Linked DNA regions of Homo sapiens: region 2 is linked to region 1. The links come from fine-mapping of genetic effects on gene expression. Tissue or cell type: thyroid. Region 1 holds a variant in brackets; the other region holds the start of a gene. All regions are shown on one strand. Distances are between the middles of the regions. Region 1 overlaps C1GALT1 (core 1 synthase, glycoprotein-N-acetylgalactosamine 3-beta-galactosyltransferase 1). Region 2 holds the start of C1GALT1 (core 1 synthase, glycoprotein-N-acetylgalactosamine 3-beta-galactosyltransferase 1).

Evidence for each region.
Region 2: C1GALT1 starts here. The variant in region 1 is fine-mapped to the expression of C1GALT1 in thyroid (GTEx, PIP above 0.99). The same link has a PIP of 0.9 or more in adrenal gland, aorta, atrial appendage, cerebellar hemisphere, cerebellum and cerebral cortex.

The regions. Positions count from the first base shown.
Region 1 is chr7:7,239,437-7,255,606 of GRCh38, reverse strand. It overlaps C1GALT1 (core 1 synthase, glycoprotein-N-acetylgalactosamine 3-beta-galactosyltransferase 1), which reads right to left. Exons shown (of 4, transcript NM_020156.5): 4 at 6,991-12,083. The coding sequence ends at 11,880. It overlaps LINC03016 (long intergenic non-protein coding RNA 3016), which reads right to left and starts at 453. Exons shown (of 4, transcript NR_108073.1): 1 at 429-453. The variant T/A (reference allele first, on the strand shown) is at 8,793.
Region 2 is chr7:7,174,693-7,191,425 of GRCh38, reverse strand. It overlaps C1GALT1 (core 1 synthase, glycoprotein-N-acetylgalactosamine 3-beta-galactosyltransferase 1), which reads right to left and starts at 8,882. Exons shown (of 4, transcript NM_020156.5): 1 at 8,606-8,882. RefSeq lists silencers at 8,093-8,312, 8,533-9,142.

The DNA.
Region 1 (16,170 bases):
TATATCGACTCTTTCACATGAAGTTGTACCTGAGCCTTATTCTTTAAATCCAGTTCAAATGCCACAATTTCTTTGAAACTTCTCAGATCCCTAAACACTTAATATACAGTCCTCTTATAGTTCTTTGTAAATACCTCTATCATAGTCCTGAGGAGGCTATTTGTTCACTGGCATGTCAGCCCCCAACCCAAATGTGAGATCCTTCAGGCAAGCCTTAACCACAGGTTTCGCCCTCCTTTCTCTTCTATAGCTGACAAACCATGAGCCTGGTGAAAGTTTGTTGAATGGGTGATTTAATGACTGGAGGAAAAAAAAGAGCTGTTGCTTTTTTTGGATTTTAGGATAGAAAACTTGTAACTTGACATGTAAATTAATTATTAACTAACTCGACACAGTTTTCTCCTTACCAGTGTTAGGCACGACCCTACCTTTGTTTTGTCATCAGAGATCACTTGTTGCTTCAGTAACCAAGAGCACTGAGCTACACCAAGTGACAGTGCTTTGGAATGTCTAATGGTCACTGTAGAGAAAAGGAACCTGAGCTCTCCTCCCTAATAGCAAATACACACAATCTTCTGCCCACACTTGAGGTTTTGTTCTTTTTCTGGACTGTATTCTCCAACGTAAATGCGAGGTTTTTTGCCTGATGGTGTATGATACGTGGAGTTCAAATCAAGATTTTCTCAAGCAGAAAACCTGTTTAGGAGTCCCTCCATATCTATGAGAAAAGCATTTTGTTTAGAGGTCTCCATAAAAATGAAACAGAAGAAAGTAGGGGGCATATGGAGAACTTTTCTTCATAGTGAAAGGATGCTCACCATTTACTTCCTTTTAATTGATATATAATGTACATATTTATGGGGGAGAGAGTAATATTTTGATACATACAATGTATAGTAATCGTATAGTAACCTTTTTAAACTTTTTTGTTGTGGAGATGGAGTCTTGTTGCCCAGGGTGGACTTGAACTCCTGAGCTTCAGCCTTCTGGGTAGCTAGGACAACAGGCATGCAGCACTACACATGGCTTTGTTATTTAAAAAAAAAAATCCTATTATGTCCCAGGCACAATTGGAAACAAGACAGATTTGATCTCTGATAACAGTGCCTGGCAACTATTAGGATCGTTCCTAGAATCTATTTGCAAATGGTGGGAAAAGGCAGGGACCAAATATGTGAGTTCTATCTAGCAGTACAATGGGTCAAAGAAAAACAGAAAGAATGAATAAGATCTAGTATTTGATAGCACAATAGGGTGACTATAGTCAATAATTTAATTGTGTATTTAAAAATAACTAAAAGAGTATAATTGGATTGTTTGTAACACAAAGGATAAATATTTGAGGGGATGGATACTCCATTTTCTATGATGTGATTATTACTTGTTGCATGGCTGTATCAAAGTGTCTCATGAACCCTATAAATACGTACACCTACTATGTACCCACAAAAAATTTTGTTAAAGTACATAGCTCAGGTTGTTCAGGGAAGATAAGAAATTGCATTTAGTACAAAGACCACTAACCTGGGAGTCAGGAAAATTGAGTTCTGTTGCCACTTCTGGCATTATTTGTGTCATTTTTCTAAACTTTAACATCTCTAGATCTGTTTCTGAATCTTTCAAACGAGGCGTTAGAACATCTTTAAGCTCTAGAAATCAGTAGTCCTATATTTTTATGTGGGAAAGGGCTCAGTGTCTTCTATTTCCATGAATAAGAGAATAAGACTTAAGCCAGAACAGATCTAAGAAAGATATGAAAATAATCTGACACAAGGATTTGAGAATAAATAGTAACTTCCGAGTACTCTTCACCCTTGGAGTAGAAGGAGAGAAGGATGCTAAGACGGGTCCACATGAGGCTGCTGGTCCTTTGTATGGGTCAACTATTTACCACTCTTGAAGATGGATACCTCCTTCATCTACCCTCATTATGAACTAGTTCAGCAGTCTTTATACCCTTGATTGAAGAAAGTAATTTCTTATGGCAAGATAAAAGAATCCAAATCAGCTTTGAGATCTTTCCAGCTCATGTGTGTACCTGCTTACCTCTACTGCTGCTTAAGAATGTCTGTGGACATTCTTCACCACTGGTTGTAAAAACCCTAGGGAGCCAGGGCCAACAGCTTTTTTTTCCCACTTTACTTCTCTAAACTGTGACAGTATAAACATGATTTTTTAAAAGTTCAAAAAGGAAAACAGTGAATTATTGAATTTCTTTCCAATCCTAGTACCCTTCCCCAAAGGTACTGCCAACAGTTTTTGTATATTCATACATTTATAAGTTAAATCATATTTTTCCTTATTTGACATCATATCTATGTTTGGTCTTAATTCTGTCATCTATTGTAAATTCTCCCTTTAGCTCTCTTATATGGCCTGTGTTATCTTTAATTTTGTGTTTTCATTTTAATAGTTATCAGGCTTACAGTTTTGGTGATTACCTTCATAACTATTCAGAATATTACATCCCTATTTCTTGATATATTATCAATTTTACAAAATTTCTATTCTGAAAAGTAAAACCAATTAGGGCATGTATATATTACCTCGTCTTTGATATTCTATTTTCTAACTTGTTAATCATCTTTTCTATATCAAGATTTATAACATTTCAATATGCTTCCATAGCCTTATTTAAATAATTCTATAGCTACATAGTTAAATAATTAACCACCACCAGTCCTGTTCTCAATGTTTGTCCATTTATCTCTTTAGATGGGCTTCATCATCTAGATTTTTCAAGAAGTGTCCACCCTCACTCTTTCAATTTACCCTTCCATTTGAAATCACTTGGCTTCTTCCTCCCCCAAGAATCTGGTAGAGTTTGCTTCACTCTGCTTTAGCACTGAATGTTGCTACAGAGAAGCCTAAGTCCAGTCCGTTCTTCCTCTCTCCATCTCCCCCTCCCAAAGAAATCACTCAATTTTGTTGCTGCTAAGATGACATTCCCCTCTCCCTGCCCCCAGGACAATTTGCAGATTTTGGCCACATCAAGAGCAACTGTATTTTTTTGAAATTATAATGTTAAAATTAGCATTTGTTACACGATCTCACTTTAATAAAACCATTTCTATCTATTTAGCTTCCTATCCAATTTATATTTATGCATTAATTGGAATTACTTTGGGGGGTGGTGGGGTTTGGGGTCCTTTAAAAATTTTCATCTTTGAAATGGTCATCTGCAATGAATGTTTAAGTTTTTTTTAAAATAATGGAGCTTATCACTTTTTCAATGGAAAGATGACTTATCTAGTAAAAGCTGGTAGTAAATACACAAGATACAATGATGCGTACTTTTTTGTACGTTTTGAAGAAAAACTAACACAAAAGAAAAATGTTAAATGTTTAAAAAGAGGAAACAATTTCTCAAACACCTCCTCTTGATTCTGACAACTTGGGTGGGTTAATGGGCTTATGTCATAGAAATGGCATTTTCCCCCCTCCATATCAGGACACTTCATAAACTTTAACAAGAAGAATAAGCCAGAAGTTTTCTTAGCAATATGAATTAAGAGTATAAAAGCCATTGAATGATGTGGATGGAAGTTTTTACATGGTTATGGCTGCATATGGAAATGAAATGATTTAAATTGGCCCCTTTCGAGAAGAGTCTCTTGCTTCACACACTCCATTCTTTCTTCTATGTAGCATCTGGTACTTTCAGTTCCCCTTTTGTGTAAAGTGCTGGAGGTTAACAAAATACAGTAGTTCCCCCTTAACCACGGGGGGATACATACCAAGATCCCCAGTAGAAGCCTGAAACAGTGGATAGTATAATCCATCCACCAGGATTGTAGTAAGAATTACATGGGATAATGCAATGTAAAACAATTAGCACACTGCCTGAGAGTATAACTCTACTGCACACAACTACTTTTTTGGGTACTTTGCTTCTAATAGAAGGTGAGTTCCTTGACAGCAACAAATATAATTTGCCACTTTATCCCTATTATCTAGCTCAATACTTTTAGTAGGCACTCAAATGTTGGTTAAATGATTTGGAGCTAAATTGTCTGGCGTTTAGGTAAGGAATAGCAATTTTTTAAAAAGGGAATACATGCTAGGTCAGGCTGTGGAAGGTCACATAATCTGAGGTTATATTCATTTTATTCAACAGGTCATAGTGACCATTTTTAAGATGTGAGAGAGGACTGCCTTAATACTGAACACTGAAATCTTTTATCTATAAAGATTAAGTTTTTCTCCCCACTGGTTTTCAGGTATTTAAGCACCCATATTTTCACTGAGTAGGTTCTAGAAGGAAACATTTCCTTAAGAAAGAGGAAACTGCAGGATAATGTGGGCATCGATTCTTTGAGTGCTATCTCTTCTTTCTTTCAGCAACTTCTAGGCTGGTGAGAGGGAACTGAGGTTCACAAAAGATACACAATTTTTTAAAAAGTCTTAAACACATCCATTTTGATAGAAAATAGAGGCAGCCGGGCATGGTGGCTCATGCATATAATCCCAACACTCTGGGAGGCCAAACTGTTTAAAGACCAGCCTGGGCAACACAATATGACCCTGTCCCTACTTAAAAAAAAAAAAAAAGAATGGGGGCAATAAAAAGTCTTAAGAAACTAAAGACTTGCTGCTGCCAATCAGAAGAAAAAGAAAGGGTAAAAGAAAAAAACATGGAATGAGAGATGAGTAGGAGAAGGTTCCAAGAGCTATAAATTCAAAGGCCAAAAAAGAGAGAAATTCCGTCAGGCAAGTAGGTTTGTAAAAATTACTTTAAAAATCAGGAATTATATCTGTGGCCAATTATTCTAAACACATAGTTACCTTCACTTCATCAAATAAACCACTTATTATATAAACCTAATCAACATGAAAATGCAGTGGTTTTAATACTTCAATTACATTAAAAATCCAGTTATTAAAATATAATCATAACCATCCTTTTTCTTTGTCTCTGACATATACATACCCACACTCACCTACCCACACCCCACCAAAAAGTATAAAAACAAGGAAGAGAGTCATGTGTAGAACTAAAGGAAAAGTTGCATATTACTTCTCTTCCAAACCTATGTTCTGGATTTTATCACCACCTTTCCACAATCTAACAATTAGACAAGAAAATTAATAAGAATGAACTGTTAGAGGTATAGAAGGGGAGACAATGCAGTTTAGGTAGTTCTATGAAAAAAAATTGAAGCTTATGAAAGTCAAAAACTGATTAGTTGTAAAAATGAAGACACTGTACCCAAATTAGTTCTACGATAGCACATCATTCGGCAGTTCTAGAAATGAAGTACTGTTAATCTTTCACTAGGCATTCATTAGAAAAGCCAAAGAGCCTAAGTTCTAGGATTGAATCTCATTTTTTAAAATATGAGTATTTTGTTATTTCAAAGTAAGCTGTTGTATTAACCTGCACTATACAGGGGCAATATATAAGAAAGTATATAATGCCCTGGACAAATTTTCAGTCCTGGAGAAAAGCAATATTGATAATAATACAAGAAACACTAGCACATTTTGTAGAAGAAATGCAACACAGAGACAGTTTTAAGTTCTAGGCAGCAATACAAAATGCGTTAATTAGTAATAAACTCATGGCAAAACAAAGTTCACTTCTGTTTTACTAATACAGATGCATCTGGAGAATGCCAATGTTGCTGAACTCATTCAACTTTAGTAGTTAAATGTTAGTTCATTCTTAACCACTAAAAAAATTTCCCTTGAACAATCCATATTGTCAGCATTATTAGACTTTAAGACGACCACTATGTTGAGCTCTGTAGAGTACTTCCCTTTAACAAGGAGATAAATTCAGCAAGAATCTTCTTGTATGCTTTCCAGTACTATGAAGTCATACCTTTGGAAAACTTAAAATAGGTTTAATTGTATATATTTAGGTAAATATATCTACTTTCCAATGACTTAACAATTATCAGTACAGCTGGTTGGAAAATATTTAGCTGTCTGAATATGTTAAATTATACAACTCTACTACTAAAGTAGTATGAAGTGGTATTTATCTCCTCAGCTTTTCTAAAGCTGTCTAATCCAAATAACAGTGTGTATGCATGCTTGCGTGTGCACACACACATGCTAATAACATACTGGGTAGCAGATTACTGAAAAATCAAGACATATAGGCTAGACTCAAGGGCCTTATGGAATTTGTAACTGTTTGCCCAGAAAGAGATAAAATACTAGGTCTATTTTTATTCATATTCTGAAACTCCCAGACAAATCTATCAATACACCTGAGCTCTGGATGAAGTATGCCTAAAAACACAAAGTTTTTTAGCCTATAGTGTACATTTCAGTAAGCCTTCACTTACACCTACAGCATGATTAAGCAAGGGTGGAAAGTTTTTTTTTTTTTAACACATAGTTGGAGCAAATAATTTCATAGATAAAAGTAACTTCTGAAGTATATAAAATGTCTGTTATTCAACATTCAAGTCTCTGCTCAAATGTTACTTCCTAGTCTTCCTTAATACCCCATCCAGAAAATTGTTCTGATAATATTTTTATTTTCCTAATACCACTCTATGAAATACTTTGTTTATTCATCTACTAGCTTATTTTCTAACTCTAGAATTAAGACATCCTGTATGTCTTGCTCACCACTGTATTTCTAGCAGATGCCTGGCATAAGTATTTGTTGAATAAACTAATTTCTCAGTGTATGAGATAGATCAAAATATACCAAGGAGCACAGAAGCAATCTCTCTCTAAATATATGAGATTCTCTCCCCTCTTCCACCCCCACCCATCTAGACACACTTACCTAGACTACAGTGTTTCTAATTTTTTTACAGTATATTATTCTCAGTCAGAGGTGGAATATTTTGTTGCTTTAAAGTAAATAATACATATATTGCAGTAAAACTTATGAAAGCCAATTCAAACTAAATAGCTTTGATGGGAAAACAATTTTAAACTTTTGGAAAAATAACCCCAAACTACCCATAAAAGACAACATTTATCTCACAACTTTTATATTGGTTAAAAATAATCAGATGAAACAACTTTGAACATGGCAATTTATTTTATGCATTATTTAAATCCGCTGTTTAAAAATGTTCAAAAGGCACTTCAAGAAACATTTAAAAATACATTTTTCTGACTTAATGGTGATCACTTAAAAATAAGCAAGTCACCAGACATTTTTAAACCATTCGTAACACCATTACCTTAAATAATTTTTAAATTCCAAAACACGAACATTCACTATGTAGTACAACACACTGCTTAGCAGTAAGATTAGTTTCCCTCTAATAATATACTTCATGTAGATTATTAATTTGCAGGGCCCCGCAAAGTTATTAAAACTTAATATAAACTGAAAACTAGAGAGGTAAGGGAGTTGAAATAGAGCAAAATTCAACTCTAAAACTTTAATGTTGGTTGCTCTAAAGAGAATTTGTAAAATTCCTTATTCTAGCCTGTATTAAAGTTTTTATTTCAAATCTTATATATAAACACATTTTTAAAAAATCAACAGAGGTTACATTAACATTTAGCATAAAATCTACCACAGGTTGCCTCCCAGATTGCTTCACTATGTTTCTGTCAGGCCTACTATAAAGTAGAAAAATAAAATGAGTTTTGTTTTTTGTTGTTGTTTTTGAGAAAAGGGTGAGTGGAAGAACCCAAATAACTTTACTTCCTTTAATAATTGTAGACATAGAATTAATTTTAAATTATAGATTTTTAAGTAGGGCAAGTATCTCGAGAGCCAGCAGGCATTATTCTTAGACTTTTACTTTCAATTTCATAGGGAACCCTAGTTAGTAGGCTTAAAATTATCAATTAAGTGATAAAAATTCTAATCACTATTAACAGCCAAATTAACCTTGTGAAGGCAGCATTTAAGAGTAACTAGAAAATGGAAGTTAGTAATAAAGCAAACAAAGAAGGGCAATAAACACCAGGCAGAAACTGTCAAAGAATTATAGTCTAATGAACTGAAAATTGAAATGGCAAATAAAATGCTAGATGTAATTTAATCAAGGGATTCTTTCAAGTACAGTGCATCAACCTGGTAGTAACTATAGTTTGACAGTCTCAAAGAAGTGAAAAATTAATATTCAAGAAAATTGTGAAAATAACCAGTTAGCAAATTTACTGCTCAAATCCAATTCTGTATTCAAAAAATATTAAGAGCTGATCAATGATTTATTTTCATACCTCATTACAGTAAGAAAAAGCCCTCTGAAATTTATATTTGAAAGCAAACTGGGACAAAAATCTGCTTTATCTATGAACTTCCCACTAGAAAATACAAGCATACCATTATTAGAGAACATAAGACATCAAAAGCCTTATGTTTTAAAACCATACTGAAATCATTTACCAAATAACAAAGATCTTAATCTAAAAGATAGTGAATACATCATCATCATGAAATCTGGTTTTATGTGCTCTATGAAGTACTTGGAGAATTGCTTTTTTATTTTTCTTTTGCTTTATTAGGTCACACAAAACAGAATGAATTAGCAGAAAAATGTATGTTATAAAACAGCATTTACTACTTCAATTTAATTTTTTTTACTAACAATTGTGGACCTTTTTGATGACACTTATGTATGTTTTTAATAAATTATGTACTTATTAGTACTTAATGAGCCCTTCCTGCCTCAATATAAAATTACTAAACTTGGAGAATTACAGATTTTATTGTAGGCCCTGATGTTAGTCACTTTGGAGAAGCTAAAAATTTGGCCAAAATGAATGATCCAATGATCCTTTAAGTTATCTTTATATTTAATATAGTGTGATCCTGGACTACACTGATTTAAAACATGCTTTTTGAAAAATGTCTTAGTAAT[T/A]GGGCAGTAATCTTCAGTGTGTTTCAAACACTACTTGCACCAAAATCACGTAGGTTGTTGGGTATTGGTTCTCAAACTAGGATAAGAAAGACACCTGCAGAGTTTGCTTAAACACAACTGCTAGCCCCTGCCCCTGCCCCTGCCCCTAGAGTATCTGATTTAGTAGATCTGATCTGAGATGAGGCCCCGAGAGAGGCTGCATTTCCAACAAGTTCCCAGGTGACGTTAATGCTGTTTGTTGGGACCAGACTTTTGACAGTCACTGCCCAAGGTATCTGGTAAGAATGCATACTCTTGGGCCCCATGCTTAAATTTGAATTTCTGAGATTGGGGTCTTCAGATCTGCATTTAACAACATCCTGGGCAAGTGTGAGAACCACAGTTTAAGAATCACTGTGACAATTTGGCTGGGTTAATTTGACTATTACTGGCCAATGCATCAGACGTCATATATCATATACATAAAAATGGAAATAATGCTACATGAATAGCCCCAAGCCTGATACGGTTCCAATGAACACACAGGGTTTTGAATATAAATCCTACCTCTGTTACTTACTAGCTTTGTGACAGTGACAAAGTTACTTTGTCTCTGAGCCTCAGTTTCCTTATCTATAATAGGGGTATAACACCCAAATTTTGAGGATTAACACTATTATACACAGATTATCTAAGCACAGTACCTAGCATACAGTTGGCATTGGATAAATACTAGCTATTACTTATTTCCTTCAGTATCTGGTCAAAGCAAATTTTTCATTCACTTAAATGCAGTACTTACACTCCAAGGTAACAGAATAATAATACAATCTTCTATTTATTGCTCCCTATCAATGTTCTAAAAACCTTACATTTATTTAATCCTCATAAAAATCCTGTGAGGTAGGTAGTATTATCATCCCTAATTAAAAGATGAGGAAATTGAGACACAGAGAGATTAAAATTGCTCAAGGTTACAAAAACAGTAAGTGTTAGAGCAAGAATTTAAACCCAAGCAAGTCTGACTCTAGAGCCCAGGATTCATCACAATATTCATTTCCTATGAGCAAATCTCAAGGTTTTTGGATATCTATAGTAAACCATTTATACTTCTAGTCAAGTAACACATATGAAAATTCATGTCCACACCATGGTGAAGAGTTGTTCAAAGAATAAAATGAATGCCTTGAAATTTTGGCAGATGATACTACCATGATAATAGGTAAAAACTGGTGCATGTTTTCACTACGTGGACAGAGTAGTCCATGGTTAACCAATGAAATGAACATCCTCTCAAATATACCATTCAAAGAGGTCATGATTTTGACATGTTTTGGCACAATAAATAGAAATTACTTAGCCGGGTGCTGTGACTCACGCTCGTAATCCCAGCACTTTGGGATGCCAAGGTGGGTGGATCACCTGAGGTCAGGAGTTCAAGACCAGCCTGGCCAACACGGCAAAACCCTGTCTCTACTAAAAATATGAAAACTGGCGGGGCGTGGCAGCGCGTGCCTGTAATCCCCGCTACTCGGGAGGCTGAGGCAGGAGAATCGCACCACTGCAGTCCAGCCTGGGAGACAGAGTGAGACAGTCTCCGAAAAAAGAAATTACTTAGCTAAATAGCAGAGTCAGTGGCATGACTGCCATGTAAAATTGGCATAATGATAAACATGAGGGAAATGTAAATACTTTGTACCATAAAAATAATCTCATAGAAAGTCTGTAAAATATTCTGCTATGACACTCAGTACTGCTAAAGATAATAAAAATAAAAAATTTCTTTCCTTTCAGAAACTCTTTAAACAGAGTCACTAAAAATAGAATGAAACATTTGTGAATGTTTTTGATGACAGTCTTGACTAGGTATTCTGCATTGTTAGAATTATCCATTAGCAAAACAATTATCCCAAAATAGCACCAACCTTCAGACTGTTATTTATAAATTAAGTATCTACTCTTTCAAAATATAACATTTTTGTTTAAGCACTCTACATTTTCTATTGTTTTTAATTCTCATCAAAATCTTGCTTTCTAAATAATCTTGCCACTGTAACTAATAGCCACCTCAGATCCTATAAACTAATTTTAAAACTCTGCTTTAAACAAGTTATGAAAGGCACAAACAAGTTCTCATCCCAACAGGATGAGAATGAAATAAACCATAACTATGTAGTTGGAAAGAGTTTAAAATATCAATTTAAAATGTCACTTAGTAATTCCTGAGAGTGGCACTGTTATAAGAAAAGCATCCTGAAACAGCATTAAATTTATTATTAGTTACCCATAATGAACAATGGGCAAATTTGGGAACAAATATGTAAAATACATGTTTACAGAATGCTATGAACGGTTTGAGTAAATTAATGTTAATAGTGGAGAATGGTATTCAAGAGTGGCTAAACACATTTAGAAAAGAGACAACAGAGATTGCGTAAAAGATGACTAATTAGAATCAAGTATATAATATAGTCAAGGCCCATGATAATTTTAAAGTGTGGTTTTATTAATGCACTTCAGGGTAAGTGCCAGTCTTATTTTAGCTTCTTCTGGAAGAAATACTACCAATTATAAATAATCACAGCAACATTTTCATTAGACAAAAACTGTGTGTGTGGGTGTGGTAGGGGGGTATCATTTATAGCATACTGCAAATATAAACTCAATTCTTGAGCTATATTAACAACACTGAGCAACAATATTTCTTTCTAAAATTTTCTTTTCTTTAAGGCAGATCTGTTTATTACTAACATGGTGCAGTGTAGTTTTAGTAAATTTACTATTTTAGTTTCTCAGTGACAATAACACAGATGGTCAGAAAACAGGCAACAAAATCTCTTTTCTAGTTCCTCTACCTGGCCACCATTTAAAAAACACAAGTTCCTCATATATATAGACATATTTATATATTACTGTATCAAAACACATTTTAACACACTTCACAGCTCATTTAAAGCTTCAGTTTATAGTCATTCATGTGAAAGGTTTCTATAAGGAATGTTCACTTAGAATTCCTCACTGGGATTCCAGTGTTCTATGTCAGAAATGCAGAAGTCCTTTTTCAGTGCAGTGCTAGACATATTACCTTTGTTCATTCATGATTTTCTTTCAAGGATTTCCTAACTTCACTTTTGTATCTTCATTTTTGTTTGCTTGACTAATTTCCTTTAGTATACGTTCAGGTAAGGTAGGTTGATATCTGTATAAATAACCATATGGACGAAGATGATAAACGAGGTATTCTAACTCATACATGGTTGTAGAATCAACATAGTGAAAAGAAACTGCAAGATCAGAGCAGCAACCAGGACCCTAAAAAAGTAGTGGAAACAGGTATTGTTAATAAACAGCACATTGCTAGCTACAATATTTACATACTTATAAAGGACCAGCTAATTTTAAAAGAATACAAACATTAAAGATGGCAAGGTAAAGCAGAGGAACCTAATGTACTAGACCTGTGGAAGAAATCAATAGTTTACTTAGACATCCTAATGATTTAAAACCAATTGAAATTGGTGAAACCAAGTGAAACTGTGGAAAGTATTTTTAAATGAAACAATATTCTCTCACACTCTTTAGCGGATAAAATTACTGAGATTTCTTCAAATCAAAGGAGCAGCTATACAAGGAGAAATCTCCTTCTCCAACATCTGCTTTCTCTTCCTCATTTTCTCACTGTAATTTTTTGTGTGGCTCATACTCGGAAACATACCTCTAGGGCATTCAATGACTACAAAGCCTTGCCCATTAGGTGTCTACAACCCAATACACTTCATCTATATATGTATCAACCCAAACAGTACAGTATTTGAGACAAAGCTCTCAACCTAGACTTGGGTTTGAACCCAAATTTTGTGGGCTAGTATACGACCTTGAGTAAGTTATTTAATCTCTATAAGCTTTAATTTCCACATTTGTAAAAGGTGGTTATTTAAAGGAGACAATGTGTGTAAATTACCCTTTGCTTAAAATAAATGCCCAATAAATGTTAGCTATTATTGACTGAAAAATCATATCAGGTGGCCCTAAGGTAGGTCAGATTTAAACCTTTGTCCAGTTATGTAATTCTCATAAATTCCTAATAGGGTTGGTATGAGAACAAAGTTTAAAATAAAACAACAACAATACAACGAACAAGAAAGCAAGAAAATTAAGAAGACAGAAAAAGAGATGAATTAAGCAGTCAACCTAGAGTCAGAATTGGTATCTGGAGAATGTTGGTGTCATCCAGGTGACTCCAACAAAACTTCAGGCTCCATCTGACATCTTTGTAAAGAATGAGGGAGATAGTCTGGCAAGTTCCAAGAGAAGATTCATATTGACTGAATATTTAATAAATCTAATAATTTATGTTTGGAAGTATGTAGCTTACAGTGTGTAAAAATTATCAAACTGTCCACTGCGTTTTCTCTGCTGTTATCTCTAAACTTTCCTTTGAAACACACACTGGATATGTAGATTCTTAGACAACCTACTCTTGCACCTTTAGGAAATATCAGAATAAAAGCAAATAGGAAAAATAACCAGATAAGTCAACTTGTGATTATCTAAACTAGCTCTGTCCAACAGATATGTAAGCCATATAGTAGCCACATAAAAAATGTAAAAAAAAAAAAAAAAAAGTGAAATTTCATTTTATTTAACTGAAAAAGTTCATCATACTGTTTTAACATGCAATAGTTTTGCGATGATTAATGAAACCTTTCTTGAAATTAGGTGTGTATTTTATTTACAGCATATCTCAATTTGGACTAGCCACATTTCAAGTGCTCAATAACCACACATACTTAGTGGCTACTATACTGTCCAGTGCATATTAAACTTAAGGACTAGACCAGTAATAGTTATAAATTGCTGACCTCTGGAAGCAATTTTTATATTCTGTAAAATAATATTTTTGATAAGATTTACTGCATTAATTATATTGCTCTTATTTATTTATATTTTACTGGATGGCCAGGATTCTGTTAAGCATTTATGCAATAAAAGACAATAAAAGTAAAAAGCTATAATTATTAGAAAACAAGAGCTAGCAGACAATTATGGTTACCCAAAAAAACTCAAGAATCTCAAGTGAAGAATCATCAGAAATAGAGAATTCAGTTACAAAGCCAGATTTTAAAGATGCTTAAAAAGAAAATCAAACAAATAAGTTTTCATATATATCAGTAAAAAGTTAAGTCTTTAAAAGCCCAAGTAGAACAGTAACAAAAATATTGCATACCTATGGAAATAGTTTATAAAACTTGACCAAAGGACCTAAAAGGTGACTTACAAAAAATCCTGGGCAAAGATGTTATTGTCCCTAAATTAATGAGTTTGTATGCAAAGATAAAGAAATGAGTTGCCAAAACACTTAGAAAAAAAGAAGAGTTAATTTGCCCTTAGAATAGTAACTTAAAACTGCTGTAAAGCTACAAGGTTCAAAACAATATGGTGCTGGGCCAAAATCAAATGAGAACAATGGCATAGAAATGAAATCCCAGATTTAGATCCTACTATAAGTAAGGTTACAGTGTATGATAAGGGGGACATTTTAAATCAGTAATGAGTTAAAAAATGGTAGTAGAATAATTAGTTAACAATTTAAAAAAATCAGGAGCTCTCTACCTCACTTATGTACTAATATGTTTCAGATAGAATAATGTAAATAAAACTGAATAAAGTAGATCATATTTGACCATTTCTGACCTACAGAAAAGTCAATTTTTCATGTAGAGAGATATATATGTAAACAATTACACATATATTTTAAATCTACCATATTAAGACTCACTGCAACTTCTCTGGTGAAAAGTCTATTACTAAGAAGGTGGAGTGGGAAGGGAACTGCTTAAGAGTCAGTTCTGAACAAGAAATTTAGGAATGTAACTCTTTCATGAATTAGAATATCTTTTACCCTGACTTGCTAGATAAAAATTTTCTGTATTTTCAGTAATTAGTATATAGAAAAAAAAAGTATGTATAAGATTTAAACTCATTTAGGGGGAAGAAAACTTACTAAATGATAGATGGATAATAATAGAATTTTAGTTTCACGTTGGGTTTATGTAAGAATCTCCTGAGGGAGAACAGGCAATGTCAGATTGATGGGTCAATTTTGGTACTCTGAATTCTAATTCTGTTTTATGGTCTTCAACATAATTTGATAAATTTCTAGAGAAAGAACAAATTTGCCAATTATGATGTCCCTTTGCTACTACTGTATGTGTATCCAACATCAGATACTCTTAGTAAGATCTTATATGCATTTGGATGTATTTGCTACATGTTTATATTCTTGAATTTGGGTAAATTTTTTATATGGGAAAAGGATACAGAATTAAGGAAAAAAGATCAAGTCATCTTGGAATGGTCAAAATATATTAAGAAAAGTTTACATCAAAAAAGCATCCAAAGTAGTACTCTCACTAAAATAGAAAAACAGACTATCAAAAGTTTCCTTTTAAAGCTGATTACCTAAAGCTTGGGTCAGATGTTCTAGGCCAGGGTCTCTGAACCATGGTACTACTGACATTTTGGGCTAGAGTAATTCTTTGTTGTAGGAGGCTGTCCTGTGCATTTTAGGATGTTTAGCATTTAGTAGGTTTATAATGTAGTGGGTTTCTACCCATTAGATGCCAGTAGCAGCCTCCTAGCTGTAACAACCAAAAATGTCTCCAGACCTTGCCAAATGTCCTCTGGGGGCAAAATTGCCCTGGGTTGAGAATCACTGTTCCAGATGATGATTTGAAAGCATTGCCTTATGAAGATGACAGTAGTAGCATGAAGTGTATTATTTATACGTTAGGTCCACAGAAAAGAAGGCATAGAGAACTAGTGACTTGCCTAAAGGCATTATTAGTAACAGAACTGAGCCTAAAAGCTAGGTTCCATGATTCCTGGTCTCATTCAGTTATTCACTGAAGCAATGCTTATAATAGTGAACACAGCAGACATGTAATTAACATTGATAAATCTCAATGTTGTGTGAAAAGGGCAAGTTGTAGAAAGATATTTATTTAAAAATCTGAAAAACAATACTATAGCATTTTCTTCTTTAAATAACTGAAACAAATGTGGCAAAAAGATTAATATTTGGTAAAGACAGGGGATAAGTACAATGTATATTCTGAAATATTTGTACTACTGGAATACTTCCTAAAATAATGCACTTTAGATAAAATTCTCAGGAATGTGAGCCAAGGCTTATTAAATGCTTACTGTGTGAAGGGCTGTACTATGTTGTAATTACAACAACTAAATAAGACAGGTACATTATGTCCATCTTACAAATGAGGAAACTGAAGCTCAGATGTCATCCAAGGCTCCTGTCCATCCAAGGTTGTTCGGCTATTAAGTGAGAGAGCAGGATTTGACTCTAGGTCTTTCTGAACCTCCATTAAATCCTCCTGAT
Region 2 (16,733 bases), 64 kb after region 1:
TCACAAGAGCTAAAATGTGAAGCAAACCACGTGTTCACTGAGGATGAATGAACAAGCAAAATGTATTTACATACAATGGAATAGTATTCAGCCTTGAAAAGTAAGGAAATTCTGATATATGCTACAAAATGAATGAATCTTGAGGACATTTTGCTAAATGAAATAAGCCAATCACAAAAGGACAAATAATGCACAATTCCACCTACATGAAGTACTTTAAAGTAGTGAAAAATCAGAGACAGAGTAGGCTTTTGGTTTCCAGGGCCTGTGGAAAGGTGAGAATGGAGAGCTATCGTTTAAACGGATATAGAGCTTCAGTTTTACAAAATAAAGAGTTCTGGAGATAAACAGCGGTGATGGTTGCACAACAATATAAATGTAGTTAATACCACTGATCTATAAACTTAAAAATGATTATGATGGTAAACTTTGTATGTATTTTACCAAAATTTTAAAAAGTTTGGAAAAAAAAAGGTATCAATGATAATGATGTTGATTTCCTCCGAATTAACCTGTATGTAAAGTAATCCCAGCTAAAACACAGGAAGATTTTAAAAAATTATATAACTTGGCAAAAAGTATTCTAAAACTTTGGACCAATAAACATGTGGGTGTAACTGGGAAATTCTGGAAAGGGGCATTGTGGGAAGGGGTGTACTAATCTGATCTGATCAATTTTAAGTTATAAAAAAGATTTTAAAAAATTAATGTGGCAAAAATTATTCTAAATGTTATCTGGAAAAATAGGTGAGTATCACTGGAAAACTCTTGAAAGGGGAACTGGGGAAGGGGAAGAGACAAAGTTTACTACATATAAAAATATATTACCTTAAAAAAGGTAATGAAAACAATTTGGTATTTATGCTGAACAAACTCTCAGTCTGTTTAAAAAAATGCATTTGTTAATACTAAAGACAATGTGCTGAGAAACTGTTCTCTACATCAGACTGTCAGAAACTATGTTATTTGAAATTTTATAAAGTGAGAATGGAACATCCCACTCTCGCACTGATGGTAGATCATTATGAAACAGAAGCAACCTCACTTTGCAACTCAGAGCTTCAGATAAGGGGTTTCCAGACACAACATTCCACATGTATCGCGATTTTGTAGTCTCCAGGGAATCAGAATCCTGAGTCAGCTTCTCAGCCCAGGCCTGATGTTTATTAACCCTTGACACACAGTCTTGCCGTGCTTTAAGCTTATCAAATATTGTTGCGTTTAAACTTTATCCAAACTCCACCATTCTCCAAAATCCTATAATAACCCTGGTTCCTTCTTTAGAAATGCTGACATTTCCTCTGCTGTGCAAGTCTCCTTCACTGCAGCAAGCTAATTAACCTTTGTCAGCCTACAGATGTGTCCCTGGTGGTCTCTACCAGATGAATCTTATAAAGGGACTTCATCAGGTTGAAATAAAGACTCTATGGAAAACAAAAATTCATGTGGAAATTTAATACATAATAAACAGCATTTCAAATCAAGAAAAAGGTGGCTTATTGAAGAAATGGTATTGAATTAATTAATCTTTTGGGGAAAAAAAAACAAAACCAGCTGGATCCTTACTTTCTAGTAACAATTTCAAATGTTTCTAAGATTTCAGTATTTTAGAAAATGGAATTAAAACAAAACTGGAAGAAAATATATTTTTGCATTTTGATATTACGAATTGAGATCTCTCCCACACTCAGAAGCTGTGACTATTAAAACACTATGAGTTTATTCATTGGATAAACTTCTGGCAATGAAGTCGCTGGTTAAAGGGCATATTTCTTTATGAAATATATTTTTTTAATGTACAGCAAAAAGAACCAAAAAGTATCATAAATAATAAAAAAGATAGTTAACCAAATACAAAAACAGATAAAGAAAATAAAAGATTCACAGTAAAAAATGGTCAACGATGTTCAAATTTCACTCACAAAGGTAAATCAAATGAAGAGATATTATTTTTAACCTAACATATTGGCAAAACTTTTAAAGTTTATTAACAGCTGTTATTGACACAGATACAAGAAAACTGGTAGTCCTGTATTCTTTCTCATAATACATACTTTTACTGTCTTTTGGAAGGGCATTTCACAACATCTTTTTAAATTTTTAACTAATTATGCCTTGATATATCACTTCATGATCAGAAACTTATTTTACAGATATAATCATAGAAGTCAGCCAAGATGCTCGACAGCCATAACCATAAGACGTCTGTCTGTTGATGAGGAACCAGTTTTTTAAAAAAAAGATAGAGCCATAGCATAGAATAGTAGTAGCTGTTAAAAACAATGATCTACATGTGCTGATAGGGAAAATCTTTGTGCTTTTGACAAAGGTTACTTTTTATTGTTAATAAGGTATACTGGGTATTTTTTTAAACATCAGAAAATGTAAAGAAAACAAAAGGAACAAACCTAAACAAATGAAAGAAAATCATAGACAGAAAAGAGTAAATTTTCTTTACCATCTCTACCACTATCTCTCCCCAAAAGTAACTGCTTTCGTATCGTTGGGTAATGCCTATATCATCACATATGTATGTTCAGCTTTTAATTTACATCAGAGATCATGCTTATCGGTTAGTCTGCACTTTAATTTACCCCTTCACTTATTTTATCCATAACACAATGTCATTCATTTTAACAACTGTATAAGATAAAAGGTTTATTTTTTAAGACAATGTACCGAAATATTTTCTAGTATGATTTCACTTGGCTTTTTAAATGTTTCTGTATATATTTTAAAATCTGTTAAGATATATATACATATGATATTTAACAAGAGCTATCTCTGGGAACTAGCACTGGGTGGCATGAGCAAGGAAGGACAAATTTTTTTTTATTTTATAACCTTTTGATGTTTTAATTTTGCATCGGGTACACACATTACTTTTCTGATAAAAATTAAATAAAGGGAGGCAATTTTTATCTACAGAGTGAAATAATATGATAAAAATTAAAGTCCACTAATTTCTCCACACTTGTCAAACAAAATGATCTCTTGATCCTTTCAGACTTCTCCAAGTTTCAGATTCACATACACAAATGCCTGCTAAATACTTCCACCTGGACCATAGGCATCTCTAATTCAACACCTCCAAAGTGACTCATTACTTTCCTCTGCTCATTTTACCTTAATTACTGGTAATTACCTAAATTATTCACCAATGGGTTCCTATTTCACTCAGAGCCACAGGATTATCTAAACTACAAAGTACACAGATATTCTTAATGCTTCCCTTATCTTCACCCCAAATCCAATTACCAAGTCTTGCCAACATTACTTCCTAAATATTATTCTAATCCATTGTCTCCTCTCCATTTCTAGTATTTATCCTATTTCAGACTCTCCTCTCTCCCCACAGGCTATTACAATATCTAACCTCTCTGACTCAAGTGCTATCCCTCTTTAACTCATACCCCGTCACCAGAATGAGCTCTCTAAAATGAAAAGCTGACCATGTCACCCCATGAATCCTTTCACGGAACTCCACTGCCTACAAGACAAAAACTAAACATTTTTTATTAACATGATATATAAATAAAGGCTATGACCTAGAGCCTGTCCAGGTTTCCAGCCTCGTCTTTTGCTATTCTGTGCCTTATAATTTATGTCTGCTTCAGCAATCCTGAACTGTCTACAGTTACTGAAAGGTTCCCAATATGGTCAGCTCCTCTTCCTACTGTCTTCTCTGACTACAACACTTGCTTCCCACCAACCTCTGTAAATCCCATTAAACTAAGGTTTCTTAACCTTGGCGCTACTGACATTAAGAGCTGGATAACTCTCTGTTGTGGAAGCCGTCCGGTCCTCTGTAGGATATTTAGCCAGCATCCCTGGCCTTTACTCACTAGATGCCAGTAGTATTCCCCCTAGTTGTGACAAACAAAAATGTCTGTAGACATTGCTAAATGTTTCCAGGTAACAACCTCTCCACTAATTTGTTAAAACTGTTTCTCACATTTACATAAAAGATCTCCCCTGTCTCTACTAAAAATACAAAAAAAAAAAGAAATTAGCTGGGCATGGTGGCAGGTGCCTGTAGTCCCAGCTACTGGGGAGGCTGAGGCAGGAGAATGGCGTGAACCCAGGAGGCAGAGCTTGCAGTGAGCTGAGATCGCGCCACTGCACTCCAGCCTGGGCGACAGAGTGAGACTCCGTCTCAAAAAAAAAAAAATCTCAGGAAGAATAGAGATAAGACTACTTTTAACACTAATTGCCTTTGAGGAGGACAACTGGGTAACTGGAGTGGGATGAAAAAAACTTACTTTTCAAACCATTTACTGTGCGTTTTTAGTCTTGTACCTCTTCTGACTTCTCCACTGCTATCACCCTGGTCTGAGCAACCTCTCTGTCTTTTAACTACTCCAACAACATTCTAACCAACTTTCCCCTTCCTTTAGCCTTTGCTTCTTTGGCCCATTTTTACCAATAGCCACAATGATCCTTTTAAAACTGAAATCAGATCACATCACTCATTTGCTCAAAACCCTCCCGTCTTCCTAATCTTAGAGAGCCAAAACCTTACAAGGATCTACCCACAATCTGCATCCTACTCCACCCCTTTCTTTCTGATCTCTTCTCCCCAGTATTTGGTGTTTTTGTAGGTCAAAAATGAACAAACAGCAGCAATTTCATAGATTGAACCTAATACTAACTGCTTGTCATTCCTCAAACGTGCCAGGGTCTTCACACTTAACTGTTCTCTGCTAAGAACACGCACCCAGGTGCTCATATGGCTCACTCTCCAACTCCTTCAGGTCTTTACTTTTCAGGAGTCTTCACTGGCCACCCTATGCTTACCCACAGCACCTATTAATATCAAATATTATTTTACTTATTCATCTTGTTTACTGTCTCTTTTCCATCTTGATCAGTGGTTCTGAAACCTGAGTCTCCATCAGAATCATTTGGAAGGCTAGTTAAATAAAGAGTTCTGGGATGGAGCCTGAAAATTTCAATTTCTAACAACTTCCCAGGTGATGATGATGCTGCAGATCCAGGGACCACATTTTTAGAACCCGTGTTTCAGAATGTAAGCTCCATGAGGACAGAGATTTTTGCCTATCCACTGTTTTATCTCCAGGACCTGGCACATAGTAAGCACTTGCTGTGGTCTGAATGTTTGTCTCCTCCAAAACTCATGTTGAACCTTAATCACCACTGTGGCAGTATTGAGAGCTGGAGTCTTTAAATGGTGACTGGGTACTAAGGGTTCAGCCCTCATGAATGGGTTATCATGGGAAAGGAACTGGTAGCTTTACAAGAAAGAAAGAAAGAAAGAAAGAGTTCTGGGCTAGCATGCTCGGCCCCCTCACCATGTGGTGCCCTGTGCTATCCTCAGGACTCTGCAGAGTCCCTACCAGCAAATGCCCTCACCAGATGTGGCCCCCTGAACCAGGACTTTTCAGCCTTCCTAACTGTAAGGAATAAATTTCTTTTCTTTATAGATTATCCAGTTTCAGATATTCTGCTAGAGGCAACAGAAAACAGATTAAGACATCACTGATATATGTAAATAAATGTAAGTGTCCCATCCTGTTTCCACTATAGCCTCTGATTCAGTCTATAATGCTAAACATTTACTGAACGATGTAAAAGATAAACCGTGCAACTGTTACAGGTTAAACTGTGTCCCCACAAAAGATAGGTTGAAGTCCTAATTCCAGTACCTCTGCACGTGACCTTATTTCAAAATAGGGTCTTTGCAGATGTAATCAAGTTAAGATGAGGTGATTAGGGTGGATCTTAATCCAATACGACTAGTATCCTTGCAAGAAGTGGAGCACACCATCTGAAGACAGAGCCACACAGGGATTATGTTGTGATAACAGAGTCACAGACTGGAGTGACATAGCTGCAAGCCAAAAAATGCTAAGGATTGGCAGTAACACAACAAGCTAAGAGGCATGGAACAGATTCTCCCCTCGAACCTTGAGAGAGCATGGCCATACCTACATCTTGATTTCAGACATCTTGCCTCCAGAACTGAGACAATAAATCTGTTGTTTTAAATCACCCAGTTTGTCGTATTTTGTTACCGCAGCCCTAGAAAATACAATGACCAAGAATGCAAATAACTATGCCAAGCTGTATTTAATTTCAAATTCTGCCTATTATCCAACATCTAGCCGTTTAAATGTGCTTTAATATACAGGTTTCCCATTCCAGAATCTCCCTAATATTGCCTCTCGTTGCCCCCAACACGCCCCTTCAATGTGCAAGGCAGCACATACTACAGGTGCTAGATAATTTATTTAGACTTTCCTTTCAGTTTCCCCCACCTTCTTATGTGCTTCCCTAAATCACAAACACCAGTTTCTTTATATATTTTTTTTCTCCCTCTTCCTATTCTCACATATTACAGATTTTGGCATATATATTCCCCTTGGACATTTGAATTAGCTGCAAAATAATTTAAGTACACATTGGAGTTCCTCTCTAACCAGATTTTAAGATAAAAGGCTAACTTCTCATTTTATGGAACAAGTCTCCTTCCCGCTCCCCACCTTTCTTCTTTTAAAAGAATGACTTAATCCCACTGAATTTGAAGTAAAAAGATTTTTGTCATACCTTTCTTTCAGCCTTGCTATAGTTTGTACATCAGCGTCTTTAATCAAATCTTAAGAAATCTTCTAAAAGAAAAGATGGTTGTATTGGGAAGCTTAAACTTTTAAGCCTATCTGAATTTAATTTCAGCATCAAGCTTTCCATTTTCTACTTAAGGTTTATTTATAGCTGCACTGTCACAAAAATTCCAATCAATGATTTTACCACACAAAGACTCTAAATTACCATGGCTTATAATGTTAAACTGCATAATGCAATTTTAATTTTAGCACAAATCAATACACAAATAGTAGCATGTGCCTAGTGACATACTTTTTCATATTTCTATTAGGTAAACAAGAACTCATTATGTGTACCCTGAAATAAATTTGTGATACAATTTTAAGAATAACTGGATATTGAATTTACTCAACGTAGTCTAGTCTTAAAAAGCATAATTATGAAAAACTTTAAATAGGAAACACAAAATATTTCTAAAATGCTTAATCCTAAGTAGGAAGATACAAAAAAATACACATTCCAGGCAAATTTGAGAGGCATTTAGTAGCTCTCCACTAATACTGAAAAATTATTCTCTTTATGAAGAATTTTAAATGAGTCATACTTTCCTTACTAAGTCATTGTTTCACTTACCATAAGGTGAAGAGTTAACTGTTTGCTAACTTGAAACTTTATATTCACTTAAACTGTACATCTATATATAAAGACTGGTAGAAAGTATAGTGTACTATATACAATATTTAGAACATACAGCATCATGGGCATTAAGCTCAACTGCCATTTACCTAAGAGGGTGAAAAGCTGTCATCTAAATACCTTCTAAAAACTCGGATTCCAACTTCCCAAACTCACACCAGAATGAAGCAACTTGAAATTATGCGCACTTTTTCCTGGCAGAGCTATGTTCTATGCCCAACTTTTAGTAAGTTAACATATTTCTCTCCCTTACACATCGGCCAATTATTCATTGATTCATTATGGTTCTAAATTTATAACTTTTAAATTCATAATGAAATCAATCCATGGTTAGCACAATAGTTTTCTATCTTAAAAAAGCGTTAAAAGGAAATACAGTAGTATGTACAATGGATATAGAGAACTAGGTTAGAAATCTTGAGAATTTTTCCAGGATGTGTGGGTTTTTTGTTGCTGATACTGTTGTTTGCTTTAAATGCGGGGTGGTGGGGGGTGGGGAGACGGTAAGGACCAGGAAAGAATAAATCCACAGCGCTAAATTATGGTCATCTTTTAAGAGTGTACGACTTACCCAAATTCAAAGCAAATGGACAACTTGTCAACACCTACTAATTCCATCACAATTTGTTGGGGAAAAATGGGGTGCAGAAGCAAAAAAAAAAAATTTAATGCCTTTCTTCCTCCTCCATGCCCCGAATGCCCCAACACACACGTATCTGCTTCACTCTGCGGCAGGGAAACTTAAAGAAATAAATCAGCTACAGACAAACCTGATGATCCAAGCTAGACCCAAGCAAGCTCCAGGCACCTCTGGAAGGAGCCCGCTCGCTGGGCGCTCAGGCGGCGCGGCAGCCGAGTGGCTCCCCGGCGAAGGTGCCCAACACCTGGGCGCCCAGTCCGGCGGGACCCACAGGTCTGCGGCGGGGCGGGGAGGGCCCGGGAGGAGGGACTGGGAGGGCCCGGCGGGGCAGGACCGCTAAGTGGTCCGGTCCGGGCGCACTGCGCGCCCCGCCGCGCCGCCAGGCAGCGCGCGAGCAGAAGAGGGGCGCGAGCGGGCACAAGGGAAGGACCCACGACGAAGAGGAGGGTACATGTCCACAAAATTGAGGCCGGGTACGCAGCCGAACGCTGTGGCAGATCGCTAAGGCTCCGGGAGCGGGAAGTCCTCGCGCCTTCCTCAGGAGCCCGGACGACCCCAGCCCGGCTTTGACCCCGAGACACCTGTTCCGCCGCGCCCGGGGTTTGGTTCCATCCTCCACGCTTCCCCACCAACCCGGAGAGGGGGGAGGGCGAGGGGAGACGAGACCTTGGACCCGTAGCCTGAGGGCGCCTCCGCCGGCCATACCTGACATCAGCTGCGGCTCCCTCTCGCCCCTCCTGGGGGGCGGAGAGGGGGACGACTTGGGACTGGTGACCTTTGCTTCTCTGGGCAGCCGCAGAAGTGGCTCGTGGCCGCTAGCCGAGGCCGCCCGCTGCCGCCCAGATTATTCCCCGGCAGCGGCAGCACAGCGGCGGCGGCCAAGGCGGGCCCAGCGCGCGCTCCCGCCCGCTCGCTCCGCCCCTCCCCGCAGCGCGTCCAGGCCGTGGCCCGCCTATGGCGCAGCCGCCACCCGAAGTCTCCTGGCGCTGACGTCTCCGCCGCCGCACCAGCCCCAGGGAAGGGCGGAGCGGGAGGGGCGGTGGGCGGGGATACGGCGACGTGAGGAAGCGGGGATTGGCTGCCGGGTGCACGCTCCGCCCTAATGCGAAGGGGTCTGGGAAGTCGGATCTTGCACGAGCAGTAGATTTTGTTGTATCCCCCTTGCGGCTTGTGTCTGCTACTCTCCGCATTTCTGATCCTGCTGTAAGGTTATGCACTAGCTTCAAGACCTTGAGCGGGACGAAAGCAGGGTAACAATAGGGAGCGAGAAAGGGGATGCTTGAAGGACCTTTGTCTGAGGTACAGGCTCTAACCCTGCAGGACTCTTGTGGCCTGTAGCCTGCTCTTAACCCGTTCATTTGTTTTTCTGTTCTCTCCCCGTGCTCTCTTTACTCAGTATCTCTCTGGGCTTAATAAAAGGAAGTAATAAGATGAAGTATGCATACGGGTGCTGGGTCATCATGTGAGAACCAGGAAGAGCTGAGAACCGAGATAATGATACCAGAAAGCTTTCTATAGGCACATTTCGTCTTTGGTTCTGTCAGCACTTCGGTTCTGTGGGGCAATGGCCGGAAGAGCTTCTTAGGGGCGTAACAAAACCTATCTCCCCTTTCGCTGGGCTCTGAATAAGGAAGTTGTCTTTGGAATAGGGGGAGGAGGCTGCCACCTGTTGAGGCAACCCCACAATAGTCATGAGGTGAGGGTAAGGTTTAGTCTTTACTGGCGTTAACCATTATCTACAAGACCACGTTCCAGAATAGGAAAGCTACCCTGCTTCCTTTAAATGCCCTATCCAAGCGGTTCTTTAGTACTCTACAGCATGGTTGTTAAAGAGTATGGGCTCTGAAATCAGACTGCCCGGGCTGGCATCTTGGTCCCTCCACCTATTGGCAAGTTACTTAGAATGCCTGAGACAAATAATAATATACATTAGTTATTGTTATTTTTCCTTTAATTTGCTTAGGTTCAGCTGTAGTGTAGTTTCTCAGGACATTGCATCAATATATCCAAAAGAATTGTGAAACATAAAGCACATGTAGTGATTCTAATACAGATGTCTCATTTTTCAGATGACAAAACTAAGGCCAGAAAGATAAACTGATAGGTCCATGTTAGAAGAGAAGTGCAGCTATCCTGATGTCCAGGTTATTGCTCTTTCCTTGGCTCATGGGTCCAGACTTCTCTGCCTTACATGATTACGTCCATTCTCTACTCCTCCCCAACTTGTATACAGTTGTTGCTCAGCCTCCTCCCCCTCCACCTTTCCGCAATATCCTTCCACCTTTCCGCAATATCCTTCCACCTTTCCGCAACATCCTTCCACCTTTCCGCAATGTCTTGCCATCCATTGTGAAACATGGAAGGAGAACTCTTTCAGGGGTCAGTGTTCCAAATAGAAACCAAAACTCACAACTCCTTATCTCGTTTTAATTTTATTAAAAGTTATAATTAATAAAGAATAACACTTTTTTCCATTGAGCAAAGATTAGAACCCTTTCCTAAAATAAGGTCAGCCACAGCCTTATCCTGGAAAATTACTTGCTAGAAACAATACTGGACCAAATCAGCCCTGCCCCCACCCTGCCTTTCTTTGAAAATAGCTTTTTTTTTTTTTTGAAGAGATATGGTCTTTCTATGTTGCCCAGGCTGGAATGCAGTGGCTATTCACAGGTGTGATCTTGGCACACAACAGCCTCGAATAACTGGGCTGAAGGCTGAAGCAATCTTCCCGCCTTAGCCTCCCCAGTAGTTGGGATTACAGGCACAGGCTGTGGCACCCAGCTAATAACTATTGTTTTATAAAAACAATACATGCTTATGCAAACAAATTTAAAAAATTTAAACAAAAATGCAAAGAAGTTAAAATCTGTCCAAATACCATAATATAGAGATAACCATTTCTTAAATTTTGTGTTACATTCTTCTAGGCATCTCTCTAAGAATAAAAGCACATATAGACATATAAATACAATATTTCATAAATTGGATCGTATTATCTGCACAGTGAACAACAGTCATGAATAACATCATTTTTAAAAGTTGCATACTGTCTGTTAAATGGATATACCATCATTTATCCAACCAGTATTCTATTGATTGACATTTATGTTTCCAAGTTTTTACTACCATAAAAAAAGTCTCTGATGAACATTCTTATCCATAGGCTTTTGCACAATTGTGCAATTATCTCCTTGAACACATTCCTAGAAGTGACATTAATGTCAGCCAATTCTTCGACATTTTCAATTAGAGAATAAAAATTGTGGTTACTTTGAAAAATATACTTTATATGTGGGACTCAAAACTGACCAGATTCTCCCATTTGAAACATACTTGAAACACACATAAACCTCAGTATTGTTGTTTCTCTTGTGTCTAGTGTTTAATAATGCATGTCAAAACTCGTTGGAGTAGGTCGGTAGACATTACTAGTTGTCTAAACCAAAATCCTTTCTTCTTTACTAGTAGAACTCTGATTTCTTCAGGGTGACAATGTGGCCAGTTAAAAATATTCATGCCCCTAGACTTTCATAAGTCATGGCTGGCCATGTGACCATCAATTAAATAAAAGTGAATTTCTGTAGAGGAGACTCAAGGAAAGCTTTATGGAAGAAATATCGCTTTAGCCATTTGATATGCACCCATCCCTTTTTTTTTTTTTTTTTTGAACCTGAAACAGGGACATGATACTGGAGGTAGAACAGCCATATTTCACCCATAATAACAAAAGCCACACAGACACTATTAATAGTGTAGGACACCAGAGGTGCCTAGGTCCATGGTTGCTTTGGAGGGCCAACTTACCAGGTCTGGACTATCCACTTCTGGATTTGTTGTTAGGTGAGGAAGATTATATCCCTTCTATATAAGATTTTGTTATTGTCTGTTGTAAGTATCAAATGCAATTCTTAGTTGACATAATAAGATAGGCCAAGTCATCATTTATTTAGCACTATATATAGAATTTTTTAATAGACAGAATGAGGTGAAAATGGTGACAGAAAATGCAAACAAGCTAGCAACAACATTAAAACATTGTCTTCTTTAATAGACTTAGTTTCCCTTTAAATACCTACATTTTACAAATATATTAACACCAGTTTATAATAATTAAGTTAAATTTCGTGTATTAAATTTTATTAACTCATATGGTAGTATTAAAATATGTTCACAAATTATTTGATACTTCTTCCTTCAAAGGGTCAAACTTCATTCCCCTCACCTTGAGTTTGGACTGTATTAAATGACTTGTTCTCATGAATAGAATGTAGTGGAAATGATGTAATGTGACTTCTGAGGGGAGACTATAAAACATGCCAGACTTTTTATTCTTTCTCTAGGATTACTTGTTGGGGCCAGGTAGCTGTTATGTCAGAGTCATAAGGTCACTCAGGCAACTTATAAGGAGGCTCACATGGTGAGTAATTAAGGCTTCTAGCCAACAACCGGTGAGGTATTGAGGCCTTCTGACAAGAGCCATGTGAGTGAGCTTGGAAGCAGATCCTCCAACCCTTCAGGCCTTCAAATGATTGCATGCATCATGGTCAACATCTTGACTGTAACCTAGAAAGAGACCCTGAGACAGAACCATTCAGCTAAGGTGCTCCTGAATTCCTAGGCCACAGAAACAGTGAGATACTAAATGTTTAAATGATTGTTGTTTTAAGCCACTAAGTTTTGGGATAGTTTGTTATACAACAATAGGTAACTCATACAGCTGGATATAATAGAGCCTAGCACAATGCCTGGCACACATGCAGGTGTTCAATTATTTGTTGTTTGAATGAATAAATAATTGAATGAAGTATATCTTTTTCACTTTAGTAGGTAGCATACAATGTTAGGATTATCTTTGCTCCCTGACACCTGTATTATCTAAGGGTTTTTTGATCTCTTATAGAGAGATGTAGTGTGAATCTTACTGAGAGCTAAACTTTGCCAGTTGTGGAAGTAACATGGTGAATAGAACAACGGAATCCTTGAAACTTGAATTCTGCCCCCAGTTGTTTTTCCTCAATCAATTTTTTTTAATTTTTTAAAAATTAATGAGTTAACACAAAATTAAACCATGTCTTGAAACCAGACAGCCATCTTGTCTGCCATCTCCAAGCAAATTACAGATTGACTCATAATACAAATTTGCCCAGAGGGCTTGCAATACTATTTCACAAAGTTGGCTGTATTATTTCTCTTCACAAATGACCAGTCTGATGCATAGCATGTTTAGCTACAGATGCCTCTGATGACTCTCTCTGCAACATTTTCATGGCTCGCCAACAGGTCTGTCTACATTTCTCAGGTCTACCAAGGGGGCGGTTCAATTCTGCTTTGATGTAATCTATCCAAAGATCAGAATCTACAGATCTAAATTCTCTCAAAGCCCTCTGTTGCAGAATTCCTGCATTCTTGCTCCTTTTCAAACTGGATCATTTCCTAAAAAAGTCAACTAAAAATGGATGGCTCTCCTGTAAACTTTTAAACACAGCTCCAGCCTTTTTGTAGCCACCACTTTGGTAAGCCCAATCCAGGTACTTATCTTTCAGTGCCCCCAGTTTTATCACTGATTAGCTGGATGACCTGTAGTAAGTCACCTAACCCTTCTGAATCTCAATTTCCCTATCCACTAACTGGGGAAAATTATCCCAATGTACCCCAAAAGGCAGTCAATGAGATTATATGTAAATATGCTTTACATATAAAGCATTAGCATTCTTTTAATTAAATTAGGCTGATGAGGTCTACCTGATGTTTAAGCAATTAAGCATTAAGTATTTTACATGAATACCATGGAGACCTTTCAGGAAGTGACAACTTATTTACTGATTTTACTGTGTACTGTATAAAATAGTAGCATCATTCATAGCAAGCAGTTTGGATTTAAGAGTATGGCAGAATGGTAGCTTATATGTCAGGTCTCATTTTATGAGCCTGTTGAAAATTTATTACTCTTTTAAAAGAATGCATAATTATCACTGGCTCCTTTTTCTTTTTCATGAATTAATTTGTAACTGTGGCTGAGTATATCTGCTCCTCTTTGTTGTGACAGAGGTACTTAAACAAACTTAATAACAAACATATATATAACCGGTTATTTGAGTTTATGAGTTCATCCTAGAGCAAAATTGCACCCAATAGCAAGAAAATAAATGGCAGAAAACATGTCTTTCTCTTTCAGAGGGCAGAACTTAGGGCACACAGGGGAAGGCTTTATATACTGGAACATCAAAGGTAGAGATGAGGCAATTATTAACAATGCACATTTTTGTGGCATGACTAACCTGAGAGGTAAATATGTTAGAATGAGTAAGACAGAGCCTTAGTGTGAGACTCAAGTCCTGATTATGTAGTGGATGAATGGCCTTAAATACAAGGTCCCTAATTTAATTGTATGGTTTTTTCTTGCTTTCAGCTATTCAGCTGTGAGCCCAAATCAGTTGAAACTACTGGCCTAATTAGATATCAGACTGTTTGTTGTTGTGGATGATCCCTGAGTAAGAAAAAGAAGAACTCTAGGGGGAAGAAAGGGACAGAGCTTCTTGCACCTCATTTCCTATGTTAAATTAGGGAGTAAGTGAAAAATGGACACCAGGAAACAAAGATCAGGGAAATCCTTCTGGCAACATTGTGCTTTTAGACAGAGCTTCTCGTCTCCTATTGAAAATACCTGACAATGCCACCCTGTATAACCTAAGAGAACATTTTCTAAACAGTTTTTATTCCTTGTAGCTACATCTTTACAAAATTTACCAAGATTTTGAGACAATTGGAATGGCTGGTGTTGTTTTCTGAATTGACTGACAGAGGAATAGGGTTAAGATGGAGAATAGAGCAGAGGAAGAAATAAAGAAAAAAAGTCTAGGAAATACATTTAACCTCGAGGGAAGAGGACTCAGTGTGACTCACAGCATATTAGCTTGAAAGCAGAGACTGTCACGTGTGCACTGAGGAACTTGTGTCATCTAGAAAAATATTCTCAGCTTACGAGGCTAGAATCCCTGGGGTTACTCTTTGTTCCTCTAGTTCCCTGGAATAAGAATCAGGAGTGTTCCTTAATTGTTTTCTCAATTGATGAGAAACAGAAGCAGAAACATTTGTTGTAAGTGAAATAGTTGAAGTTTCTTTAGTTTGAAATCCCAAAGGAGTAAATTATTTATAAATGTATATGTTGCATCTGTTATTGAAAAGAACTAATTGACTTACAAATTGTGTAGCTGCATAATGTGGCATTTTTTTTTTCTTATTTCAAGTTGTATTTCTAAATCTAAAGGTGGACCTATAGTAGATACCTTTTCTTGTTTCTATTCATCCTCCATAGAGAAGCATCTCCTTCCTCGACCTTTTTCCACAAATTCCCATTTTGCTGAAATGGCTCACAGAACTTGGGCAAATACTTTACCTATGTTTACTCACTTATTATAATGGATACAGATGAATAGCCAGATAGAAGAGATGTATAATGTAAGGTATGGAAGAAATGGCATGTAGCTTCCATGCTGTCTCCAGGCATACAAACCTCTGGGAACCTCTATGTGTTTGGAAAGCCCCCCAACCCTATCCTTTTGGGGTTTTACAGAGGTAATAAAGGTAAAATGAGGGGATAAAGGTAGGGCCTTTTATCCAATAGACCTGGTGCCCTTCCAAGAAGAGGAAGAGTTCTCTCTCCCCATTATGTAAGGACACAGAGAGAAGCCTATCATCTATAAACCAGAAAAAAAAAAGCCCTCAGCAGAAACCAAGTCAGCCAGAATGTGGATCTTGGACTTGCTAGCCTCCAAAAGTGTGAAAAATAAATTTATGTTGTTTAAGCTATTCAGTTTGTGGTATTTTGTTACAGTAGCCCAAGCAGACTAATACAAGGGGCTACCTGAAGGATTGATGCAAGATCCTCTCCTCTGTTTTGCTAACTCAGAACCTAGGGCAGAAAAAGCTGGAAAACACAGCAAACTGAAGTAATAACCCTAGACACCTGGAGGCAGAGATTACAGTTGAAACATGCAATAGACTGCCTAAGGCAAAATCTGGAGAGAGTTTCTTTGGGAAATTAAAATATTCAAAAGCAACCATATATACGTGGGAATTTAGAAAGCCATGCACATGCCCAGGGCAAAACACTTGCTTAGAAAACACCTGAGAAAACCCTAAGCTTTCATTTTGGGCTGATCCCTTAGCACAGTGCAAGGCTAACTAAGAATTGAAGTAGAGCCCTGGCTTAGAGCCACTTTGCAAAGACTGTGAGAGCTTCTGGCATTCGAGGAAATCTGCCAAAACACTAGCTGAACACAGGCTAAGGGACAGAGTCTTCCATGACCATATTGACAAGGAATACAGTCTTTGAAATAATAGTTTGAGACAGGCATCAAATAAACTGACTGCTACAGCCTTCAAGAACCAGAAAACAGCAAACCCCCCTAGGAAAGTGAAGAAAATCTAATTTCTAGTTACCACATCATAGGAGCCAAATGTCCACTTTTCAAGCTCACACACAAAAATCACAAAGCATACAAAGAAACAAGAAAGTATGGCTCATTCAAAGGAACAAAATAAATGGATAGAAACTGTCCCTGAGGAAGTCCAGACATTGGAATTACTAAACAAAAACTTTAAAACAATTGTCTTAAATATGCTCAAAATGCTAAACATGGAAATGAAAACATTGACAGTGAACTAAAGGAAGCCAGGAAAATGATGTATGAACAAGATGAGAATATCAACAAAGAGATAGTAGTTATGAAAAGGAACCAAACAGAAATTCTGAAGCTGAAAAATAAAAATAAAAAAATCTAAGTGGCTTCAGCAACAGAACTGAGCAAGCAGAAGAGTCAGTGAACTTGAA